7 linked regions of the Homo sapiens genome follow. The protein of the gene in region 1 purifies or fractionates together with the protein of each later gene. This does not show direct contact. Each region holds a gene or a part of one and is shown in the gene's direction. Other genes may lie near its edges.

Region 1 (3,500 bases):
CTCTTGAGAATCAAGCGAGGTGGTGTCTGGAGCTAGCCACTCAGTGCTGTTATTTTTACAGTCGTGGTTTACCCAGGGGCTCTCCTCTGGGGGCTAGAAGATACTTGAGGCCCAGCTTCATGGGGAGCTCCCCTTTGCCCCAGACGCCATGTTGCAAACCCTTGAGAAGGATCCTGGACAGAGGCCCTTGCTTTTCATCTGGAATTCTGAGTGCTGCAACCTTGCAACTTTGGTCCAGTTAGAATTGGATCGGAAGCTAGTCAGGCAGCAGGCGAGCCCCAGTTACTCCCAGATAACCTCCTGCATTGCTGTGGTTTCTGGAGCTTTCTGTAGGGTGGGCAGTGGGAGCCAGGGTAGGTGGGGTAGGCCCGCCCCTGCGAGTGTCTTCGGCACCCTCCCTTCCACCCCGCCCTGCGCGCGGTGCTCTGCGCCGACAGCCCGCCAACCTCTTAGCCCCAGGCCCAGGCCCTGGTGGAGGGGAGAGCTGGGAGGGCTGAGCTGGTCCAGGTGGCAGAGCCACTCTTGGAGCCCCAGCTGGGGTGGGTCCAGGGCCTGTGCTCCTGATTCCCATCTGGAGTAGCCTCCCAGAGCTGCTTCTGGGCTGGTGGTGTGGCAGTGCCATCCTTCATGTATTTGGGTTCTCTCCACAGAGGGACCATCTGTGTTCTCTCCACCCCTGTCTTTGAAAACAAAGATGATACCACGCTGTACATCTTAGTCTGCAATCTGCCATCTTCACGTGACAGTCTCTCAAGATCTTTATATATGAGAGACATATTTTCCTTTTTAATATCTTCACTGTATCTCTTAGGAGATCTGTGATTTTTTTTTTCCCAATCCGCCATCATTTACTCAGAGTCAGCATTAAAAAAATTTAAAATTTGTGAGAGGACAACTATGTCTGATAAAGCATGTCATGGAAGGCTGGGCACAGCAGCTCACACCTGTAATCCCAGCACTTGGGGAGACCGAGGCAGGCAGATCATGAGGTCAAGAGATCGAGACCATCCTGGCCAACATGGTGAAACCCTGTCTCTACTAAAAATACAAAAATTATGGTGGCGGGTGCCTGTAGTTCCAGCTACTCTGGAGGCTGAGGCAGGAGAATCGCTTAAACCTGGGAGCCACTGCACTCCAGCCTGGCAGCAAAGCGAGACTCTGTCTCCAAAAACAAAAAGAAACAAAAAAGAAAAAAGCCTGTCATGGAATGGGCTCCTGCCCTGTCCCCGGCCCCTGCTTTTTTTTTTTTTTTTTTTTGAAAAACAGGAATATTAGTGTAGGGTTTGGGAATTAGGCTGTAATTTGTTCCTAAGGGGGCATGGGTTAAAGCAAGTTGAGAAATACTGGCTTGAGATGTTGGGCCAGGGAGTGCAGAAGCCAACACCGCTCTGCCCGGGTGTGCACCAGGGCTCAGTGCGTGCTCTGCCCGGGTCTGCACTGGGCCCTGCTGCGCCCTGGCCCTGGGGCCACTTGGACTTTGGCTGCCTCACTCTTTCATTACCCAAGTATCTACTGAGTATCCACCATGAGTTCTGGGGGCAGAACTGTGTTCAAAGCAGGTGGAAATCTCTGCCTCCGTGGGGTGGACATAGATGGGTTATGGGGACTCCAGTCTCTGAGTGGGTGGGGAGGGCAGCGTGCCTTTTGTAATTCCAGCTACCAAGCCTGGAGCAACTGCTGTTTTTCTGGAATCTGTTTTTTCAATCTGTGCCCCAGTTCCTCCTTCATAATGGGTGGGAGTAGGGATAGTTGATGATAGCAAGTGCTTCCCATTTGTTATTAGAGGCTGTTCCTTTCCTTCGACTCCCAGTTCCCCTCCCTTGGAGGCAGGCAGGGCTCCAGGATCATGACTTCTCTTCTGGAGATGTTTGTGCCTATGTGAGCATGTGTCTGCAGAAGTTCATTATTTTCTAACTTAGGAGCACAGAACTGTATACTGTTCTTCACCTTCCTTAATTTTGAAATTTTTTATAAAGGCGTGGTCTTCTTATGTTGTCTAGGCTGGTCTGGAATTCCTGGGCTCAAGCAGTCCTCCAGCCTCTGCCTCCTAAATTGCAGGGATTACATGAGTGAGCTACCTTGCCCATCCCTGCACCTTCCTTTTTCTCTTAAGAAGTCTCAGATCATCCCAAGTCAGCATACAGACCTGCCTCAATCTTTCCCCCAGCTGCAGAATGTCTCATTGCACAGATGCCTCACAGGCATTCTACCTCACGACAGCCTGTGTATTAAACACTGCTGTGATATTTCATCAAATCGAAGGCGCTGTCATTGGGGAGGCACCCTGTTTCATATAGTGCCAAGAAAAAGGCGTGCCCAGTTAAATCAAGACAGACCCCAACTGTGAGATTAATCTGCATTCCAGCAGTGTCAAAATGTGGAAGAGGGTGCGTTGTGGGATGGATGGAAATAGAAGTAGTTTCGCGTGGTACACCAGGAAACGAGACTGGGGAGGAATACAGCCCAGCAGGGTGTCCCGGCTTGGATTTTGAAGCCCAGTCCCAGCCACACTTGTTCCCTGCCTGACCTTGGGTAGGGGCCCCAGTGTCTCAGGAACACAGGAGCAGTGACACTTGCCCTGGGGCGGGGGCCATCCTGGAAGATGCTGTGAAGGGCTGGCTGCACTCCCTGTGGCTTATTTAAATCACTGGGATTTGCGTGATTACACTCTCTGAATTTTCTCATTCTTAGTGAACATTTTATTTTTCTTGTTGGTCATATGAGTATTTTCTAGATACAAGCAAAATACACGGGGGGTTCAAAATGCGTTGGGTTGAAACACCTAATTGCAGTGTGGTCAAAAATGGGGGATGTGGACAATTTGGTGTAATTCAGCCTAATATATTTTTCATTTTGGTCTCTGGTCATTTTCACTTATTAGACAGAACAGTTTGTAAGTATCCAAAGAAAATTATTTTGTTTTTTTTTTAGCTGATTGCAGTGGTATGATCATGGCTCACTGCAGCCTCCACCTCCTGGGCTCAAGCAGTTCTCCCACCTTAGCCCCCTGAGTAGCTGAGACCACAGGCATGTGCCCCCACACCTGGCTAATTTTTTATCTTTGGTCTCTACAAAGTGGGTATCCATGTTGCCTAGGCTGGTCTCAAACTTCCGGATGCAAGCCATCGTCCCGTCTCAGTCTCCCAAAGTGCCAGGATTGCAGGTGTGAGCCACCGAGCCCAGCTCAAAGACAGTTCTTTCTCAGCAAGTTCTAAACCATGAGTGACAGAACTAGTTTATTGTTCTTTATTTTATTATTATTATTATTATTATTATTATTATTATTATTTTATTATTATTTTGGGATGGAGTCTCGCACTGTTGTCCAGGCTGGAGTGCAGTGGCGCGATCTCGGCTCACTGCAACCTCCGCCTCCCGGGTTCAAATGATCCTCTTGCCTCAGCCTCCCGAGTAGCTGGGATTACAGGCGCCCGTCACCACGCCCGGCTAATTTTTTGTATTTTTAGTAGAGACTGGGTTTTACTATGTTGGCCAGGCTG
Region 2 (3,500 bases), on another chromosome or scaffold:
TGCAGCCTCGACCTCCTGGGCTCAAGTGATCCTCCCACCTCAGCCTCCCAAGTAGCTGGGACTACAGGCATGCGCCACCATGCCGTGCTAATTTGTGTGTGTGTGTGTGTGTGTGTGTGTGTGTGTGAGAGAGAGAGAGAGAGACAGGGTCTCCCTATGTTGCCCAGGTTGGTCTTGAACTCCTGGGCTCAACCAATCCTCCTTTGGGAGCCTTGGCCTCCCAAAGTGCTAGGATTACAGGTGTGAACTTCCCGCCCATGAACTAACATCTTTTTTTTTTTTTTTTTTTTTGAGACAGAGTCTCACTCTCTGTCCCAGGCTGGAGTCCAGTGGCACAATCTCAGCCCACTGCAACCTCCACCTCCTGGGTTCAAGTGATTCTCCTGCTTCAGCCCTCTGTTACAGGTACACACCACCATGCTTGGCTGATTTTGGTATTTCTAGTAGAGACGGGGGTTTCACCATATTGGTCAGGCTGGTCTCGAACTCCTGACCTCAGGTGATCCACCCTCCTCAGCCTCCCAAAGTGCCAAGATTATAGGCGTGAGCCACCACGCCCAGCCAAAAATAATAGCTTTATTGAGGCGTAATTCACCTACCATACAATTCAGCCACCTAAAGTGTACACTTCAGCGGTTTTTAGTATATTCACAGAATTGCGCAACCATTGCCACCATCAATGTTGGAGCATTTTCATCAGCCCGGAAAGAAATCCTCTACTCCTTAGTAGTCGCTCCTGTTTCCTCCTAGTCCCTCCTAAATCTAGGCAACCACTGAACATTTTGTCTAATTGCAAAAGTAATGTGTGCACAGGCCAGGCGTGGTGGCTCACGCCTGTAATCTCAGCACTTTGGGAGGCTGAGGAGGGCGGATTGCTTGAGCTGGGGAGTTCAAGACCAGCGTGGGCAACATGGCAAAGCCCCGTCTCTAGTAAAAATACAAAAAATTAGCCGGGCATTGTCGTATGCGCCTGTGGTTCCAGCTAATTGGGAGGCTGAGTTGGAAGGATTGCCTGAGCAAAAGTAACACATGTACAAACAATTTAGGAGGGTAAAATAAAACATGAAAACACCCTCCATCTTTCTCCGTTAAATCCCACTTCCCAGAAGAAGTCACTTAAGTGTGGTGTGTCACCATTTCCAAACCTACCTCTCTCTGTACATGCTCATAATAGCTTGGTTTATAAAAACAGATTTTTTTTTTTTTTTTGAGATGGCGTCTCACTCAGGCTGGAGTGCAGTGGCAAGATCTCAGCTCACTACAACCTCCGCCTCCCAGGTTCAAGCAATTCTCCTGCCTCAGCCTCCTGAGTAGCTGGGATTACAGGCGTGCACCACCATGCCCGGCTAATTTTGGTATTTTTAGTAGAGACAGGGTTTCACCATGTTGGCCAGGCTGGTCTTGAACTCCTGACCTCAGGTGATCCACCCACCTCGACCTCCCAAAGTTCTGGGATTACAGGCATGAGCCACCACGCCCAACCTATAAAAAGAGATATTACTCTATGCTTCTGTGGTTTGATTTTTTTCACTTGGTAAATTGGTGGACATCTTTCTGTGTCAGAACACACAAGACTACCTCATTCTTTTCTTGGTGAGTTCGTTTCTGTGCATGGATGGTTTGTCTACCCAGCCCTCTGTGAATGGGCATTTGGGTTGTTTCCACTATTTTGCTAGTATTCACAGTGCTGCTTGAACCTGCTGGTACAAACCCTCTGTAATATTCCAGTATCAGAGAGGCCCTGAAATGGAACTCCTGGGTCACCTTTTTTTTTTTTTTTTGATACAGAGTCTCATTTTGTTGCCCAGGCTAGAGTTCAGTGGCATGATCTCGGCTCATTGCAACCTCCGCCTCCTGGGTTCAAGCAATTCTCCTGTCTCAGCCTCCTGAGTAGCTGGGACTACAGGTGCCCACCACCACACCTGGCTAATTTTTGTATCTTTAGTAGAGATGGGGTTTTACCATATTGGTCAAGTTGGTCTCGAACTCTTGACCTCAGGTGATACATCTGCCTCAGCCTGCCAAATTGCTGAGATTATAGGCGTGAGCCACCATGCCCTGCCTGGGTCACCTTTTGATAGATGGACACATAGCCTTTAAGAAGGCAGCAGGCGTTTGACACTCTCCTGCTAAGATGGACCTTAGCATTGAGCATTTTCATCCTTTTGACAACCAGATATGAGAAGAAGGGTGTCTTAATTATTTATTGAGCAAAACAAATAATGCTTCTTTCCAAAGTGATTTTAAAAACTTACCTCTCTGCTGGGCGCGGTGACTCACGCTTGTAATTCCAGCGCTTTGGGAGACAGGCAGGCAGATCACCTGAGGTCAAGAGTTTGAGACCAGCCTGGCAAACATGATGAAACCACGTCTCTACTAAAAAATTAGCCGGGCCTGGTGGTGCGTGCCTGTAGTCCCAGCTACTTGGGAGGCTGCGGCACAAGAATCGCTTGAACCCGGGAGGTGGAGGTTGCAGTGAGACGAGATCGCACCATTGCACTCCAGCCTGGGTGACAGAGTGAGACTCTGTCTCAAAAAAAAAAAAAATCTACCTCTCAACATTTGGGAAGTGGCTGTAGATGCCAAGAGTGAAGGGATGGAGGGGTTCCACCTTCTGCCACCCCTCACCCTGCTGTGTGGCTTCCTCTTTGCTCCCCTGGACTTTGCAGAGAGACCAGGCTGGCCGGAAGCAGTGCCTGGGCCTGGGCCGCTGCCCTTAGCCAAGGTCCGGGTCAGCCCCTGGGGGCGAAGTGTCTGGGGATGATGCTGTCTCTCTGTTGGGTCTTATATAACATGCTTTTGTTGGCTTTGACCCTGCCTTCCCCTCCATCCAGCCTCCTCTAGTCCCCCTGACTCTGTTCCTTTTCCACTGCTGGGGCCTGAGTGCCGGCCTCGCCTACTCAGAGCTGCTCCAGCCTCCTCGGAGCCTCTAGTCCTTCCCACACACGCTGCCAAAGGGACCTTTCTAAACCCACGCGGGGCCATGGCTGCCCTCCCTGCTGTCCAAGGAGTGAAGCGGAAAAACAGGACTAGGAACCACTCACCCGCCGTCCTGCGATAACCACTTCATCCTCTGGGAGTACTTCCCATCTGTGTCGATCATTACACTTTACCGGGACCATGACTCAAGTTTGTGTCTTGCTTCTTTCACTACATGATCTATAGTAAACATCTCTCCCAGGTCATTAAAACCTCCCTGGAAGCATCCCCAAAGGCTGCATTTTATTCCATTTGAGGACAGAGGGTCACTTTCCCAGCTTTTTCCCTAATGCTGGACATGAGGTTGTTTCTCACATGTTGGTTTGTAGGGGCAAACAGAGCCACTGTGTGTGTTTCTTTTCTGGCTCCAGTCAACTTCCCTGTCGAAGACCGATTCATCTCCCAGCCCAACTCTTCCCGTGCTCTGCTTCCGCCAACCTGGGCATTTAGAGGGAGGCTCCTTCCTGCCATCTCTGAGCATCGTTCGGGGCTAGTGGGCTTGAAGGGGCTGCCTGTGTACT
Region 3 (3,500 bases), on another chromosome or scaffold:
ATACAAGTTAAAATCTTCTCTGGTTCTGTTTACAATATCCAGTGAGCTGCACAGTCCCGTTGATTGTTTTGGTAATAGTTTTATCTTTTCTTCCTGTTGCCTGTCCCTCTTACCACATCTGCCTTGGGTTACCACATCCCCATCCATCATCACACTGCTGCATGGTGCCTGGCTTATAGTAGGGTTCAGTTCACAGAATGTCCGCTCTGATTTGAGCTAGAGCAGTGACCTTAGAAAGTCACTGAATTAAAATGTGTAGAGCTCTACAAGTAATCAGATTAAATTCATCAAGCATATGTTGAAACCTACTGTGAACAATTTTTGGGAGATCAAAAAATGAATTAAAGGTGTGACACTTCCAAGAAGTGAGCCTGGTGAATAATTGGTGCTCAACAAGTCCTAGGGAAATTATAAGATGCAAGCACTATGCCAACAGGAGTATATTTTAAAAATTATTCTGCTTAGCAAGCCATTTGCATGTTTTCTGGAACTGATCTTTCAGATTGGTTGATAGCTCCAACTGAGTCTTTGAATTTGGTCAGTTGCTACATATGCCTGTTAGTTGATATCAAATCCTGCTAAAATTATTTTCACTGTATGTTGTAAGTTCCTTTGATAATAGTGCTTAAGTGTTAGTTGCTCAAAATGAATGATTAATTGCCTTAGACTTGTAAATCTGTATATGTAACCTCATGTAAGAATTGTATATACAACCTAGGCCAGGCATGGTGGCTCACGATGTTTGTAAACTCTTACTTGCTCATGATGTTTTATCAATCTTAATATGGCTAGTGCTAGTAACACTCAGGATAGCTTATTTGAGCACAGTAAATCTCTGTCAGGCTAATGAAAGGGGAGAGTAGCTCAGAGTCCAAAATAAATACTCCAAAAATGGATCTTTTTTAGCTTGGAGCGCATTTAGTAGATTTAACCTGTCAAGTGTCTTGTTAGGTCAGTTGAAACAATGGTTTTAATTGTTAGCCTGGTGGCTGGGCCGTGGGAGAGACACTTGCTAATATGTTGAGTGGTGGATGGAAATAAGCCCAGGATTATAACTTAGTCAGAGGGATCTTTGAAACAGGTTACACTGGAGAGGTGTCCACTGACTCTATGTGTGTGCTGCATTCCAGGCTTTTCTGAATAAACTGTGTGGAAGAAATATTTTCCTGATGGTTGCCAGTCATTTGACAATTTAAAGTTTCGGCAAGACTAAGTCTTTAAAGCCAAAATGACCTGTAGCGTTCTAGGTCCTTAGGATGGTGCCTACTACCTGGTGTGGAATCTTTGGTATTTCCCTGCTTCCATTGACAGACTTGTCCCAGTGTACTTCTGTCAACAGATGAGTACTTTTTATGTTATTTTTTTATGGTGATAAAACACAGTAAAATTAAATACACCTGAAGTTCTTTGCCAAATAAAGCACACTTTGAGCACATTGATTTATTTATGTATTTCTCTCCACCTTTATTGACACATAAAAATTGCATATATTGGCTGGGTGTGGTGGCTTACGCCTGTAATTCCAACACTTTGGGAGGCTGAGGCACGTGGATCACCTGAGGTTGGGGGTTCGAGACCAGTCTGACCAACATGAAGAAACCCCATCTCTACTAAAAATACAAAATTAGCTGGGCGTGGTGGCACATGCCTGTAATCCCAGCTACTCAGGAGGCTGAGGCAGGAGAATTGCTTGAATCCGGGAGGCAGAGGTTGTGGTGAGGTGAGATCGCACCATCACACTCCAGCCTGGATGACAAGAGCAAAACTGCGTGTCAGAAGAAAAAAGAAATGCATATATTTAAGGTGTACCACATAATGTTTTGATATATAAAAGGTCCTTATCCTTTTTTTTTCTTTTGAGACAGAGTCTCACTTTGTCACTCAGGCTGGAGTGCAGTGGCGTGATCTTGGCTCACTGCAAACTCTGCCTCCTGGGTTCAAGTGATTCTCCTGCCTCAGCCTCCCAAGTAGCTGGGACTACAGGCACCCGCCACCTTGCCCTGTTGGCCAGGCTGATTTTGAACTCCTGACCTCAGGTGATCTGCCCTCCTTGGCCTCCCAAAGTGCTGGGATTATAGACATGAGCCACTGTGCCCGGCCCTTGCCCATTTTTTAATTGGGTTATTTGTTTTTTTGTTGTTGAGTTGTATGAGTTCCTTTTATATTTTGGATAATAACATCTTGTCAGACAGATGGTCTGCAAATATTTTCTCCCATTCTGTAGGTTGCCTTTTCATTTTGTTGCTTGTTTCTTTGTTACATAGAAACATTTTAGTTGCATGTAGTCCCACTTACTTATTTTTGCTTTTATTGCTGGTCTTCTTGGTGTCACATAAAAAATCATTGCCAAGACTAATGTCATGGAGCTTTTCTCCTATGTTTTTTTCTAGGAGTCTTGGTGTTTCAGGGCTAACATTTAAGTCTTTAATCAGCTTTTAGTTGACTTTTGTGTGTGTTGTAAGATAAAGATCCAATTTCATTTTTTTGCACATGGATATCCAGTTTTCCCACCACCATTTATTGACAAGACTGTGCTTTCCCATTGTTTGGTCTTGGTCAAAGATTAGTTGGCCAGACATGTGTGGGTTTATTTCTGGGCTTTCTATTGTTTTCCATTGGTCTATGTATGTGTTTCTATGCTGATACAACACTGTTGTGATGACTGTAGCTTTGTAATATAATTTGAAATTACAAAGTAGGCTGCTTCCAGGTTTGTTCTTGCAAAATTGCTGTAGCTACTTGGGGTCTTTTGCTGTTCCATCCAAATTTTACAATTTTTTTTTCTATTTTTGTGAAAAATGCCATTGGAGTTTTGATAGAAATTGCATTGAATCTGCAGAACACTTTGGGTGGTATGGGCTTTTTAACAATATTAATTCTCTCAATTTATGAACATGGGATATCTTTCCATTTATTTGTGTAATCTTCAGTTTTTTTAATCACTGCTTTATAGTTTTCAGCATACTGATCGTTCCTCTCCTTGTTAAATTTATTCCTAAGTAGTTTATTCTTTTTCATTCTATTCTAAATAGAATTGTTTTCTTAATTTTTTTTTGGATAGTTCATTGTTAGTGTATAGAAGCACAATTGATTTTTGTATGTTGATTTTGTATCTTGTAATTTTGCTGAATTTATTCTAATGGTTTTCTGGTGGAGTCTTTAGGATTTTCTATATATAAGATCATGTCATCTGCAAAAAGAGACAATTTTACGTATTTTTTATTTGGATACCTTTTATTTCTTTCACTTTCCTAATTCACACTTTGAGCATGTTTAAAAGGTATTTCATAAAAAATGTATATGAGGGCCGGGCGCAGTGGCTCATGCCTGTAATCCCAGCACTCTGGGAGGCTGAGGCGGGTGGATCACCTGAGGTCAGGAGTTTGAGACCAGCCTGACCAACATGGTGAAACCCTGTGTCTGCTAAAATACAAAATTAGCCGGGCATGGTGGCAGGCACCTGTAATCCCAGCTACTTGGGAGGCTGAGGCAGGAGAGTC
Region 4 (3,500 bases), on another chromosome or scaffold:
AGACTGTGCCACTGCACTCCAGCCTGGGTGACAGAGATAGACTGTCTCAAAAAAAAGAGGTAAGTAAAAAACGCTTCTTTTGCTTCCTTTTAAGACTGAACACTTTTTCAGTTGTTTAGTTTTGAGGTTTAGTTAAATAGGTTCACTAACTTGAGCTGTAAAAACACTAATGGAACTCCTTTTACTTTGAGTTGTACAACTGTATAATCATTTATATAAGTTAGCTCTTTCAACCAAATACACATTGAGTATCTCTTATCTGAAATGCTTGAGACCAGAAATGTTTCATATTTTGGATTTTTTCAGATTTTGGAATATTTGCGTTACACCACTTGTACATCCCTAATCCTAAAATCCAAAATCTGAAACACTTGCAGAGCATTTTTTTCTTTTCTTTTTTTTTTTTTTTTTTGGTTACGGAGTCTCGCCCTGTCGCCCAGGCTGGAGTGCAGTGGCGCAATCTCGGCTCACTGCAAGCTCCGCCTCCCGGGTTCATGCCATTCTCCTGCCTCAGTCTCCAGAGTAGCTGGGACTGCAGGCGCCCGCCACCACGCCTGGCTAATTTTTTGTATTTTCAGTAGAGACGGGCTTTCACCATGTTAGCCAGGATGGTCGTGATCTCCTGACCTTGTGATCTGCCCGCCTCAGCCTCCCCTGCTGGGATAACAGGCGTGACCCACCGCGCCCGGCCTTGAAGAGCATTTCTTCAAGCATCATGTCAACAATCAAAAAATGTCAGGTTTTGGAGAATTTCAGATTTTGGATTAGGGATGTTTACCCTATAGTGTTTACCCTGTAGTGTTACATCATCTGTTCTATGACAGTCTTAATTTTAACCCCAAATTTTAACAGATTATGAATGAATTTACGCTTCAATATTTCTCTCAATGCTTAGTTAAGTACTGTACATACTCACGTAAGTGTACATAGGAATTTTTTGTTTTTACTAAAGAGAGATCATATTATTTATATTACTCTATGACACGCTTTTTTTTTTTTTTAACATGTCATGGTCAGTAAATATAATTCTTTTTTTTTGTTTGTTTGTTTTTTTTGAGATGGAGTCTTACCCTGTCACCCAGGTGGTGGGAATCTCCGCCTCCTGGGTTCAGTGATTCTCCTGCCTCAGACTTCAGAGTAGCTGGGATTATAGGCACCTGCCACCACACCCAGATAATTTTTGTATTTTTAGTAGAGATGAGGTTTCGCCATGTTGGCCTGGCTGGTATCAAACTCCTGACCTTAAGTGATCTGCCTGCCTTGGCCTCCCAAAGTGCTGGGATTACAGGCATGAGCCACCGCGCCCAGCCAATATAATTCATTTTTGTTTTGTTTTTTTGAGACGGAGTTTTGCTTTTGCTGCCCAGGCTGGAGTGCAATGGCGTGATCTCAGCTCACCGCAACCTCCGCCTCCCAGGTTCAAGTGATTCTCCTGCCTCAGCCTCCCGAGTAGTTGGGATTACAGACATGTGCCACCATGCCCCGCTAAGTTTGTATTTTTAGTAGAGATGGGGTTTCTTTCTTTTTTTTTTTTGAGACGGAGTCTCGCTGTGTTGCCCAGGCTGGAGTGCAGTGGCGCGATCCCAGCTCACTGCAAGTTCTGCCTCCCAGGTTCACGCCATTCTCCTGCGTCAGCCTCCCGAGTAGCTGGGACTACAGGCACCCACCACCACGCCTGGCTAATGTTCTGTATTTTTAGTAGAGATGGGGTTTCACCATGTTAGCCAGGATGGTCTCCATCTCCTGACCTCGTGATCTGCCCACCTTGGCCTCCCAAAGTGCTAGGATTAAAGGCGTGAGCCCCCGCACCCGACCCGAGACGGGGGGGTTTCTCCATGTTGGTCAGGCTGGTTTTGAACTCCCGACCTCACATGATCCTCCCACCTTGGCCTCCCAAAGTGCTAGGATTACAGGTGTGAGCCACCGTGCCTGGCCAATATAATTCTTTTTTTTTTTTTTTTTGAGATGGGGAGTCTTGCTCTATCACCCAGGCTAGAGTGCAGTGGTGCGATCTCGGCTCACTGCAAGCTCCACCTCCTGGGTTCACGCCATTCTCCTGCCTCAGCCTCCCGAGTAGCTGGGACTACAGGCGCCCACCACCACACCCGGCTAATTTTTTTGTATTTTTTTTTTTAGTAGAGACAGAGTTTCACCATGTTAACCAGGATGGTCTTGATCTCCTGACCTCGTGATCCACCTGCCTCGGCCTCCCAAAGTGCTGGGATTACAGGCGTGAGCCACCGTGCCCGGCAATATAATTCTTTATTATTATTTTTTTAAAAGATGACATTTTGCTATGTTGCTCAGGCTGATCTCGAACTCCTGGGCTTGAGCAATCTGCCTGCATCGGCCTCCCAAAGTGCTGGGGTTACAGGCGTGAGCCACCGCACCCAGCCAATATAATTTTTTATTATTATTATTATTATTATTATTTTTAAGATGGAACCTCGCTCTGTCACGAAGGCTGGAGTGCAGTGGCGCAGTCTCGGCTCACTGCATGCTCTGCTTCCTGGGTTCACGCCATTCTCCTGCATCAGCCTCCCGAGTAGCTGGGACTGCAGGCACCTGTCACCACACCCCGCTAATTTTCTGTATTTTTAGTAGAATTGGGTTTCACCATGTTAGCCAGGATGGTCTTGATCTCCTGACTTCATGATCCGCCTACCTTGGCCTCCCAAAGTGCTGGGATTACAGGTGTGAGCCACCGCTCCCAGCCTATTAGTTTTTTAATAAGAGATGAGATATAGCTGTATTGCTCAGGCTGGTCTCAAACTCCTGGACTTGAGCAGTCTGCCTCCTGTGGCCTCCCAAAGTGCTGAGATTACAGGTGTGAGCCACTGCACTCAGCCCACAGTAAATATAATTCTATCTTGTTCCTTTAAACAGTCCTATTGTGTCTTATAGCGTGGATGTACCATAATTTATTATTTTCCTGTGGACATTTAGATCATTTCTAGATTTTTGCCACTTAACAAAGTGCTACAATAAATATCCTTGTACATGCCGCCTTATATGCTGATGCTTTTATTTCTGTAGTCTCCAAAGGGGGAATTCTGGGTTAACAGAGAAATATATTTTAAATATTATTATTGCTAGATTACTCTCTAAATAGGTTATCATAATTTTCATCCCAAATAGCAGTAACTTCTCCATATCATGAAACCACTGGGTATAAATACATAGTTTAATTTTTACTAGTCTGCTAGATGATAAATGGGTCATGCAGTTTGTCTTAATTTTAACTTCCCTGTTACTGGGGCTAGCCTTATTTGATACGTATAATAGCCATTGGATTTCCTTTACCGAGAATTGTCTGCTCATGTCCTTGCTTCATTTTTCTTTCTCTTTTTTTTTCCTCCTGTAGGAGCGCTTATGGAATGTTAATTCTTTGTTATATGGCACGTGTATTTTTCTTGTCTTTCATTTATCCTTTTTTTTTTTCCTGGGAGACAGAGTCTCACCCTTGTCGCCCAGGCTAGAGTGCAGTGGTGTGATCTCGG
Region 5 (3,500 bases), on another chromosome or scaffold:
TAAAACTCATTTTGTTAGCACTCGGGAAGACCAGTTCCAGCACCAAAGTAATTTTTATTCAAACTATTTGCAGTTGTTGTCATTTAATTTTTATTTACAGGTTTCATAATGTTACCAGGGCTGATGTTTATGGGACCCAAACTAAATTTTGACTATTTTCTATCTACTTGTTATGTGACTCTCCGTTTTTGTTTTTTTTTTCAATGGGGAAAGGACAGGAGGCATCCTCTGAATGTACTGCTTTTATAGGCTAAAATTTCCTACTACTTTTAACTTTCTTACTTATAAGCCAAAACCCTACTTTTCCAACGAGCCATGCCAGGAACCAGCCTTCTATCTACTCTTTTAAATTACACCCCTTCCTTGTGCCTCTGTGGTCTACTACTTTTGAAGAAATTGGTACCATTCCCTCCCTGCTATAATTTGCTCTACAGTTGCACTGTTTAGTAGTGTAGTCACTAGCCACATGTGGCTATTTAAATTATTTAAAATTAAAAATTCAGTTTGTTAGCTGAATGAATTACCACATTTCAAATGCTCAGTAGCCACATCTGACTAGTGGCCACCTTATTGAGTAGCACAGATACAGAACATTTCCATCATTGCAGAAAACTCTGTTGGGCAGTGTTACTCTTAGATAGTGAAACAGGGCTATAAAGTTATTTTTATGGCCTTTTTCTTGAAATGTTGTTTAGTTATTCTGGTCTTTTCAGGCAAGTCGGTATTTGAGATGAAGCTTTAGAAAAAAGTTACACCTGGATCCCTCATTTATTGAATATTATACTGCATTCCTTGATATGGCCAGGAGTAGAATTCTTTAGTTTCTAAGGGGAGGGAGAAATGGTAACACTACCTGATTTTTTTCTTTTTTTTTTTTTTAGAGGGGCAAGGATTCTCTTGATACTTTGGCCTGAGTCAGGGCAAGGCAGGGAGGGACTTAGCTTTTAGCTATGTGCCATCAATAGCTTGGAGTGTAAAAGGGATATGGGAGTAGGAGATGCAGAGGATTGTGGTTTAAAAAGGAAGATAACTCGAGGTCACACCTCACTTGTATTTCAGTAAGCTTTTACTGCACTTGATTAAACCAAGTTGCTGTGAGGAATGCAAATATGAGGTCAGGGTGCACGTATTCAGGCAGCTTAGAGTCCATTGAAGCTGGTACATAAGACTGAAAATTAACAAGGATTTGAATGAAGGTGCATTTACTGAACTTTATTTCTACTACACGCCAGCTATTGTGCGAGGGCCTGGGAAAACAGCTGTGAATAAAACAGGTTAAGTCCTTCCTCTTCTGGCATTCACAGCTGAGTGGCAGACAGGCCAGCTAATGGTTTAGGCTTTTAAATTGGTCGGTATTTCCTTAATTTGCAGGTATTTTTTCTGCTTTTTATGTATTTTGTAATTATGAAAAGTATGCATTCTTATTTTTTTAAATGTGGAAAATAATAGAAGAAAAGGAAATTTAGTGTTAGTGCAGTGGTTTATTTTGCACTGTTACACTGTTACTTAAGAAAAGGTAGAACCTTATTAAAGGCATTTTCTATAACAAGCTCCGCCCATGGCCCAGGGAGCAGCTCTTAAAGTAGTTTAACAATTTGGTTAGAATAAAAGCAGAACAGCTGATGCTTTTTTATGTTTCTGACCTATTTTCATAACAAAAGTACCCACTCTGCTGGGCGCAGTGACTCATGCCTGTAATCTCAGCACTTTGGGAGGTGGAGGTGGGCAGATCACGAGGTCAAGAGATCGAGACCATCCTGGCCAACCAACATGGTGCAACCCCATCTCTACTAAAATTAACTGGGCATAGTGGCACACGCCTGCAGTTCCAGCTACTCGGGAGGCTGAGGCAGGAGAATCGCTTGAATCTGGGAGGCAGAGGTTGCAGTGAGCTGAGATCACGCCACTGCACTCCAGCCTGGGTGACAGAGCGAGACTCCGCCTCAAAAAAATAAAAAATAAAAAGTACCCACCCTGTAGCTCAAACATCTGCCAGTCCTGAGGTTGTGATGGCTCTGCCTCCTTCCCTGGACCTTAGGATTGGGAGGAATAAGCCTCTGAGAGACAGACTGCCCTTTTTCCCAAGAATGGAATCTCTGCTCACTAGGGTAAGGGGTACACTAGGTGAGGTCCACATGCCAGTGCTCATGGCTGTTGAATGTCCTGGAAATATGGCAGCTAAATGGAATTATTAAATGCTCAGAAGTATTTAGCTATACCGTAATATCTTAATGACCTCCAGTAGGCTCTTGGAAACTACAGCTTTAAGCAAAACAACATACACCAGGTCCTCAAATAACGTCATTTCTTTCAATGTAGTTTTGTTATAACATTGAGAAAAAAAAATACTGGTTTTGGTATATGTCATTTTGTTTTAAGTCACAGGCTCCAAGAACTGATTGACAATGTTAAGTGTGGACTTACTGTACTGCATCTTCTCTGTGATATTTTAGCAGTGTGGCATGGAGGTGGGCCTATGGGTTGGCGTACAGAGGAAAGAAGGACCTCCGTGCAAGCAGTCTGAGTGGGAGGGTTTCTGTCCGTTACTAATCATCCTTATTCTTCAGTGTTGCTGCTGAAGGTGCTGTGACACATATGCTGTGCTTCTAACACGCTTCCCTTCAAGAGGGAGAACGTGCTCCAATGTTATAAATATAAAAAGATAGTAATAATATTGACAGTTAAGACATAATTATTGGTGAGTTGCCATTTAGAAATCTTTAGAATCATGAGATTATACAAGTGGATTTAATATTTTTTTCCAGAGAATTATTGAAACGTGGATGCCCAGATCTGTAATTAAACATGTATTGTTATGTTAGACTAAGAAAACAAGTACCTGTGGGATCAAAACCTGCTATTGGAATAGATGAAGGGACTGGGGAAGTCTAAGAAAAGGACTTTTATTTGTAATTTATTCTTTTTTGTCCTTTTTTTTAAGTTTTTGATTTATTCTTTTTTAGAAAACAATCTGAAGCAAAGGTGCCAAAATATTAGCATTTAATTCTGGGTCACACGTACTTACGGATTATTCTCTGTACTTTTATGTATTTTAAAACTTTTTTCCAACTAGAAAAACTGTCAAAAACCTTGTGTAAATATTAGCCTGAATCCAATCCCTTATTAATAATAATGAAAAATATTCTGAAGAAAAAGAATTGGGTTATACAGTGAAGTACTCAGTGTTGGTTCTTTCATTATGGCGACTGTAATCTGATTTTTAATTGGTGATTGTCTTTTGCCACCAGTGGTTCTCTTCTTTTTTCCCACCCTGGTCAACCTGAGTGATTCTGCATATGCCTATCTGTAGCATTTCCTCTCTGAGCTGCTGGGGAGGTAGAAAAAATGTGCAGTTAAGAAAAAATATCTCAGGAGAGTCTGAGGATTCTCAGCAAATGTTTACACAAGCAAATGTTTAACAAGTTGCAAGTTATACTTTCTCTAAACCACTTTTTTCATTTTTGGCATCTTTCTATCTAGGGCACCAGAACTAGCACCTC
Region 6 (3,500 bases), on another chromosome or scaffold:
TGGCCCACAGACCCTGAGGTGTTTCCTTGGTGGCTCTTCACAGAATGTTTGCTGCCCCTAGTATAGAGGGTAGAGCCTCCTGGGTAGGGCTGTCCTGTGGCTCACTGTTTTTTGTAGGCCAGGTACCCCCTTGACACCTGACATCTGCCTCAGTCCCCTCACAGTTCAGCCTTCAAACTTGAGTCCTCTGTGTCATATGCCTAGACCCCCCACTTCTGAGGAGAAAGCCTCAGCTTTCTCCTTTCACGATCCCTTCTCTCTCGGTGAATGGCCAGTGGGTTGGGCTCTCTTGCCCCCACCCATGTTGGCATTGCTTGCCTTTTAGGTACCCATGGGACGGCTCCTGTTTCTCCCATTCTGAGAGCATCTGCTTATAATTCTAGGGCCTGTGTTTGGAAGCAAAGATAACTTCCACGGCTTAGCCATCTTCCTGGACACCTACCCCAATGATGAGACCACTGAGGTAGGCCCCTGCTCTATCCTGCTGAGCAGGAAAGGAAGGACTGGGCAGTCGGCTAGAGGAGGGGGCCCTGGGACTTCCATGGTCCCAGCACAAGAGGAGCCTCCAGGGATTGGGGTGGTGGGTGCCCCTGCTCGCCCCACAGGCTGGGCTGCTTGTGGAGTAACCGATGTCTTGGTCCCAGCGCGTGTTCCCGTACATCTCGGTGATGGTGAACAATGGCTCCCTGTCCTACGACCACAGCAAGGATGGGCGCTGGACCGAGCTGGCGGGCTGCACGGCTGACTTCCGCAACCGCGATCACGACACCTTCCTGGCTGTGCGCTACTCCCGGGGCCGTCTGACGGTGAGCAGGCTAGGCGGTGGGGGTGGCAGCTGGTGGCCCTGTGCTGGTCCCACAGAGGCTCAGGAGGGCAGGCTGCTGTCCTGCGAGGTGCTTAGCGTGCTGGGCCCTGCAGGTGATGACCGACCTGGAGGACAAGAACGAGTGGAAGAACTGCATTGACATCACGGGAGTGCGCCTGCCCACCGGCTACTACTTCGGGGCCTCCGCCGGCACCGGCGACCTGTCTGGTGAGTGGGCCGGGCCAGGCGTTGGTTCCCAGCCCAGCTCACCCTGAGGGACTGGGAGCTTTCCATGCAGTTGATTGCCTGCCTTCATGTGGTTTCTGAGCTCACCTGGCTGTGTTCCTCCTCCTCCTTTCTTCTGTAAATGGCCTGTCCGGGCCTCAGTTCCTGTGGTTTCTGGGCTCACCTGGCTGTGTTCCTCCTCCTCCTTTCTTCTGTAAATGGCCTGTCCGGGCCTCAGTTCCTGTGGTTTCTGAGCTCACCTGGCTGTGTTCCTCCTCCTCCTTTCTTCTGTAAATGGCCTGTCCGGGCCTCAGGCCTTGAACGGTCCCTTGGCAACCTTCCCCATCAACAGGAGGCAGCGGGTCAGTTAGATTTGGGCAATGTAGATTCCCAGATTTATCTCCAGCCCAGACCGCTCTGGACCTGCTCAGCCCTTGTGCCCACAGCTGAGGCCACATCTTGCCCATCGGGATGTCAGTGGCACCTGTGCCCCTCTATTTGCTTGCTGTCTTTCCGGACCCTTCTTTCTCTCACATGGCACCTCTGGTCCATCAACAGTCCCTGTGGCTTTATTTTCACAGCACGTCTCACCACTTCCCTCCCCTCCCTGACTACCTGGCGGCTTCAGGCCACCAGTGTCTCTCACAGGAGTCTCCCAAGTGGTCCCCTCCTTCACCAGCCCCCAACAGTCTCTCGTGAGCACAGCAGCCGTGTAATCGCCTTCAGTAATCGCCTTCAGCCCGTGTGAGGCCTCCTGCTGCTCTGCGCAGAGCTCTGCAGGGGGCGCCAGGGCCTCTGTGCCAGCCCTGCCACCTCTGGCTCCCTGCTCACTGCTCCCCCTGCCTACTGTGGCTTCCAGCTGCTGCCTGGATGCGCCTGTGCCCTCCTGCCCCGGCTGTTTCACCCTTGTCTCCTAGGGCCTTGCTCAGATGTTACCTCCTCAGTGCGGCCTTCCCTGATGCCCTCGTGGAATGTCGTGCCCCCTCCTGTGTCCCCAGCCCACTCCCCAGCATCTTTGCTGGCTTTATTTTTCTTCATAATATTTACCATCTTTGAGTCTACCGAGTAATTAATTTTATTGTCTCTGGCCCTCCTGCTCAATTGTAAGCTCTATAAATGGCTGTTTGGCCCAGGGCAGGTGCTCAGCGAGCACTGGGGTGCCTCTAACCTGCTCAGGCCTCACTGGTCACCAGGCCGTGGTGGCCCTTGGCTGTGGTTCTCGGTTTCTCTTTGGGGCCCTGAGCAGGTGCCAGGCCCAGGGCCAGCTCCTGACCAGAACTGGCACGTGACACGGGGGACCTGACATGGGCGGTTTATCCTCAGGATGACCCATTCCAGGGCCTGTAGTCTGCCCACTGCCCAGGAGCCTCCTCTCTCAGCATGGAAGTGCTTGGGTCCGCTCAGACCCCAGAACATCCATTGTTTGGGGGTTTTTCAGTCACATACCCAGCAGAGGAGAGAGGTCTGGTAAGCACCCTTCCTGCCAACCAGCTTTCATCATTTCCAGCTCGCGCCTGGCTGGTTTCCCTCCTGCCCCGGGTTGCCTGGAACTTCATCACACTGTTTCAGCCCTTGTCTTTGGAGGGTTCTTGATAGGAGCAGAGCAGCACCAGTGCTGTGGCCGGTGGCAGCTCTCACAGCTGTTGGGAGAGCCCAGCACAGAGTGGAGGAGGCACCATGAGGGGAGCCGTGTCTGACCACTGGTCAGGGGTCATCAGTGCCAGGCACCTTACGGGTGATGTCACCTGATGTATTTTTAGGCAGATGGCCATCTCGTTCCCTTTTTACTCAACCATTGGGAGTTTGAAAACTGAAAGGATTTTTCCTAAGATACGAGCAGGAAGCAGCAGAGCCCAGATGGGAACTGGGGCCTGACTCCAGGGCCGGTCCTTGTCCTGCAGGGCCGCTCGCCGTCTCCAAGGGCTGTGCATGCTCGGCTCTCACACTGTGTGCCTGGCCGAGCTCTTGCTCATTAGGTCCCCCCTTGGCTCCAGAGATTCCTGCTCCCTTCAACAAGGCCTTTCCTCAGATTCCAGTCCCAGGCTGACCAGGACCCACGTGTCGGCTTTGAGCCTCAGCCTCCTCATCTCTACAATTGGGTGATCCATCAGCGTCAAGCCAGGGCTCTTCCCTGTGCATGCCATTGGACAGAGCCTTTCCCCAGTCTCCTCAGGCACAGCTGCTGACCTGCGTTAGGCTCAGGCCCTTAGCTGGTTGCCGAGTTGTTCCCCTGCAGCCTGTATGTGGGTCTCTGTGGCAAGAATGTCTGGTGGCTCCTGCCCTTGGGACCTCAGCCTTCTCAGCCAGTCACACAGCGACTGTTGGTCTTTCCCGGGTCTGTTTTTGAGCACTTATTCTGCAGGCAGGCCATCTTCTGTGTGGTGTAGACCCTTCTCATGTACTTGCCATGGCAACCACACAGATGGAGATCATCACTCCTCTACATGTGCGGAACATGAGCCTCAAAGAG
Region 7 (3,500 bases), on another chromosome or scaffold:
AGATTCTTGCCTGTGCCAACAAACCCATGAAAAACCTGTTTCTTTCTGGTCTGACTTAGACCCATGCCTGGGGTCTCTCTCCATTATGATTCATAGCGAATGAATCACACGTTTTTGTTTACGTGTTTGTTCCCTAGGTTAGCCAGGAAATTTTTTCTGAGCAGTCTTACTCATCTTTGTATCCACATGACCTAATGCCAGGTCTAGTGTCTGGAAGGTGAAGAGTTGAAAAGAATGCTGGAATGAAAGCGTTCCCCTCAGGATAACCTAGTTTTCTTATTTTATTTATTTATTTATTTTTGAGACTGAGTCTTGCTCTGTCGCCCAGGCTGGAGTGCAGTGGCATGATCTCAGCTCACTGCAACCTCCACCTCCCTGGTTCAAGTGACTCTCCTGCCTCGCCTCCTGAGTAGCTGGGATTACAGGCACGCACCACCACACCCAGCTAATTTTTGTATTTTTAGTAGAGACGGGGTTTACCATGTTGGCCAGGATGGTCTCAATCTCCTGACCTTGTGATCCACCCGCCTCGACCTCCCAAAATGCTGGGATTACAGGCGTGAGCTACCATGCCTGGTCAGGATAACCTAGTTTTCTTACTGTCAGGCCTGAGTCTCCGCTGGCTTAATGATGACGTTTAAATTTCCTTTTCTGTCCTTTCAGTTGCAGGGTATAAGTGTTTATCTCAGAATGTCCCAGGGGCAGAAACTAACTTTCTCTGTTTTGATGATGTTGTCTGTTTTTTGTTTGTTTGTTTTTTGAGACAAAGTCTTACTCTGTTGCAGGTTGGAGTACAGTGGCACGATCATGCCTCACTGCAGTCTCAACCCCCTGAGCTCAGGTGATCCTTTTGCCTCAGCCTCTCCAGTAGCTGGGACTACAGGCACACACCACCACGCCTGGCTAATCTTTAAATTTTTAGTAGTGACAGAGTTTTGTCATGTTGCCCAGGCTGGTCTGGAACTCCTGGGCTCAAGAGATCCACCACCTCAGCCTCCCAAAACACTGGGATTACAGGCGTGAGCCACTGGACCAGCCAGAGAATAACCTTCTCTGAACCCTCCTACTTATCCTCATACAGATAGTCCCCGATTATGATGGTGTGACTACAATTTTTGACTTTACGATGGTATGAAAGTGATATGTGTTCAGTAGGAATTGTACTTTTAAAAATTGTTTTAAGACAGATTCTTGGCCGGACACGGTGGCTCATGCCTGTAATCCCAGCACTTTGGGAGGCTGAGGTGGGTGGATCACGAGGTCAAGAGATAGAGACCATCCTGGCTAACATGGTGAAACCCCGTCTCTACTAAAAGTACAAAAAATTAGCCAGGTGTGGTGGCACACACCTGTACTCCCAGCTACTCAGGAGGCTGAGGCAGAAGAATCGCTTGAACCCGGGAGACAGAGGTTGCAGTGAGCCGAGATCACGCCACTGCACTCCAGCCTGGGAGACAGAGCAAGACTCCATCTCAAAAAAAAAAAAAAAGGCAGAGTCTTGTTCTATTACCTACATTAGAGTGCATTGGCATGATATCGGCTCACTGCAACCTCCGCCTCTCAGGCTCAAGCAATCCTCCCACCTCAGTCTCTCAAGTAGCTGGGATTACAGGTGTGCGCCACCACGCCCAGCCTAGAAATTGTACATTGAATTGTGAATTTTGATCTGTTTCTGGGCCAGCGATACGAGGTACATGCTCTCGAGATGCTCAGCAGGGACAGTGAGCTGCAGCTCCCATTTAGCCCCACAAACATGAGGACAAATGGCCAGTCACAAGCTTGTCCAACCCGAGACCCTCAGGCCACATGCACTCTGGACAGCTTTGAATGAGGCCCAATACAAGTCCGTAAACTTCCTTAAAACATTATGAAATTTCTTTCTTTTTTTTTTTTTTTTAAGCTCAGCTGGAGTGCAATGGCACAATCTCGGCTCACTGCAACCTCTGCCTCCCAGGTTCAAGTGATTCTCCTGCCTCAGCCTCCTGAGTAGCTGGGATTACAGGCACGCGCAACCACACCCAGCTAATTTTGTATTTTTAGTAGAAATGGTGTTTCTCTATATTGGTCAGGCTGGTCTCGAACTCCCAAGCTCAGGTGATCCGCCCACCTCGTCCTCCCAAAGTGTTGGGATTACAGGCGTGAGCCACCACACCCAGCCAGTGTTAGTGTATTTTATGTGTAGTCCAAGACAATTCTTCTTCCAGTGTGGCCCAGGGAAGCCAGAAGATTGGACAGCCCACTATAGAGTCTATAGTGTGCTGTGTTGCCAGGTGGTTTTGTCCAACTGTAGGCTAATGTAAGTGTTCTGAGCACATTTAAGGTAGGGAAGGCTAAGCTATAATGTTCAGTAGGTTAGGTGTACTAAATACTTTTTTTTTTTTTTTTTTTTTGAGTTGGAGTGTTGCTCTATCGCCCAGGCTGGAGTGCAGTGGTGCAATCTCTGCTCACTACAGCCTCTGCCTCCCAGGTTCAAGCCATTCTCCTGCCTCAGCCTCTTGAGTAGCTGGGATTATAGGCGTGTGCCACCACACCCAGCTAATTTGTATTTTTAGTAGAGATGGGGTTTCACCATGTTGGCCAGGCTGGTCTCAAACTCCTGACCTCAAGTGATCTGCCCGCCTCAGCCTCCCAAAGTGCTGGAATTACAGGCGTGAGCCACTGCACCTGGCCCTAAATGCATTTTTGACTTAAGATATTTTCTATGTATGGTGGATTTATTGGGACATACTTCATTTTAAGTCAAGGAACATTTGTATTAAACAGTATTGCTGGTATTTCTTGTCCCAATATTACCGAACAGGGAGTGGATGTGACTTTTTTTCTTTTTTTTAAAAAGCAAAAACAAAAAACTTTTAACAGATAGGGCCTCACCTCTGTGGCCCAGGCTGGAGTGTCTATGGGCTGAAGTACAGTGGCGCGATCACCACTCACTGTAACTTTGAGCTCCTGGGCTCAAGCAATCTTCCTGCCTCAGCTTCCCGAGTAGCTGGGACCACAGGCACATGCTACCACACCTGGCTAATTTTTATTTTTTGTAGAGATGAGGTCTATGTTGCCCAGGCTGGTCTTGAACTCCTGGCCTCAGGCAATCCTCCTGCCTCAACCTCCCAAAGCATTGGGATTACAGATGTGAGCCACTGCATCTGGCAACTTTTTCTTACACTGAACAAGCCAGTATTGGGGCCGGGGTCTCAGACACTGTGACTGATGCTGTTTATTTACCTGTTTGCATCCAGCATTGCTGACAAGGCAAGAGTAAGTAACTGCTGCTCACTGACATTTGGGTATGCACAGCAAAGGGCTCCATGTAATCTGATGGTTATGCCCATGAAAGCTCATTAAGAGAGCTCAGATACTAGGCCCAGAGGATCAGGGCTTCTTAGGTGTGCAGGGACACTTGGTGAAAATGGTTGTATCAGTTAGCTATTGCTATATAACAAGCCATCCCCAAACAGTAACTAAACAGCAGCGATTTGTTATTGTTCTCCATCTTTTGGGTT

Evidence for each region.
Region 2: the proteins of AKT2 (region 1) and NIBAN2 fractionate together in Homo sapiens (co-fractionation; one large-scale study listed by BioGRID). This does not show direct contact.
Region 3: the proteins of AKT2 (region 1) and ERO1A fractionate together in Homo sapiens (co-fractionation; one large-scale study listed by BioGRID). This does not show direct contact.
Region 4: the proteins of AKT2 (region 1) and AP1G1 purify together in Homo sapiens (affinity purification with mass spectrometry; one large-scale study listed by BioGRID and IntAct). This does not show direct contact.
Region 5: the proteins of AKT2 (region 1) and DSTN purify together in Homo sapiens (affinity purification with mass spectrometry; one study listed by BioGRID and IntAct). This does not show direct contact.
Region 6: the proteins of AKT2 (region 1) and LMAN2 purify together in Homo sapiens (affinity purification with mass spectrometry; one study listed by BioGRID and IntAct). This does not show direct contact.
Region 7: the proteins of AKT2 (region 1) and EIF4EBP1 fractionate together in Homo sapiens (co-fractionation; one large-scale study listed by BioGRID). This does not show direct contact.

Annotation. Positions count from the first base shown.
Region 1 is NC_000019.10:40,243,846-40,247,345, reverse strand, and holds part of AKT2 (RAC-beta serine/threonine-protein kinase), read left to right. Parts: intron 1-3,500. UniProt on the Homo sapiens protein: Serine/threonine kinase closely related to AKT1 and AKT3. All 3 enzymes, AKT1, AKT2 and AKT3, are collectively known as AKT kinase.
Region 2 is NC_000009.12:127,562,574-127,566,073, reverse strand, and holds part of NIBAN2 (protein Niban 2), read left to right. Parts: intron 1-3,500. UniProt on the Homo sapiens protein: May play a role in apoptosis suppression. May promote melanoma cell invasion in vitro.
Region 3 is NC_000014.9:52,689,059-52,692,558, reverse strand, and holds part of ERO1A (ERO1-like protein alpha isoform 2 precursor), read left to right. Parts: intron 1-3,500. UniProt on the Homo sapiens protein: Oxidoreductase involved in disulfide bond formation in the endoplasmic reticulum. Efficiently reoxidizes P4HB/PDI, the enzyme catalyzing protein disulfide formation, in order to allow P4HB to sustain additional rounds of disulfide formation.
Region 4 is NC_000016.10:71,798,835-71,802,334, reverse strand, and holds part of AP1G1 (AP-1 complex subunit gamma-1), read left to right. Parts: intron 1-3,500. UniProt on the Homo sapiens protein: Subunit of clathrin-associated adaptor protein complex 1 that plays a role in protein sorting in the late-Golgi/trans-Golgi network (TGN) and/or endosomes.
Region 5 is NC_000020.11:17,601,075-17,604,574, forward strand, and holds part of DSTN (destrin), read left to right. Parts: intron 1-3,480; coding exon 3,481-3,500. UniProt on the Homo sapiens protein: Actin-depolymerizing protein. Severs actin filaments (F-actin) and binds to actin monomers (G-actin). Acts in a pH-independent manner.
Region 6 is NC_000005.10:177,334,669-177,338,168, reverse strand, and holds part of LMAN2 (vesicular integral-membrane protein VIP36 precursor), read left to right. Parts: intron 1-383; coding exon 384-463; intron 464-644; coding exon 645-806; intron 807-918; coding exon 919-1,033; intron 1,034-3,500. UniProt on the Homo sapiens protein: Plays a role as an intracellular lectin in the early secretory pathway. Interacts with N-acetyl-D-galactosamine and high-mannose type glycans and may also bind to O-linked glycans.
Region 7 is NC_000008.11:38,037,034-38,040,533, forward strand, and holds part of EIF4EBP1 (eukaryotic translation initiation factor 4E-binding protein 1), read left to right. Parts: intron 1-3,500. UniProt on the Homo sapiens protein: Repressor of translation initiation that regulates EIF4E activity by preventing its assembly into the eIF4F complex: hypophosphorylated form competes with EIF4G1/EIF4G3 and strongly binds to EIF4E, leading to repress translation.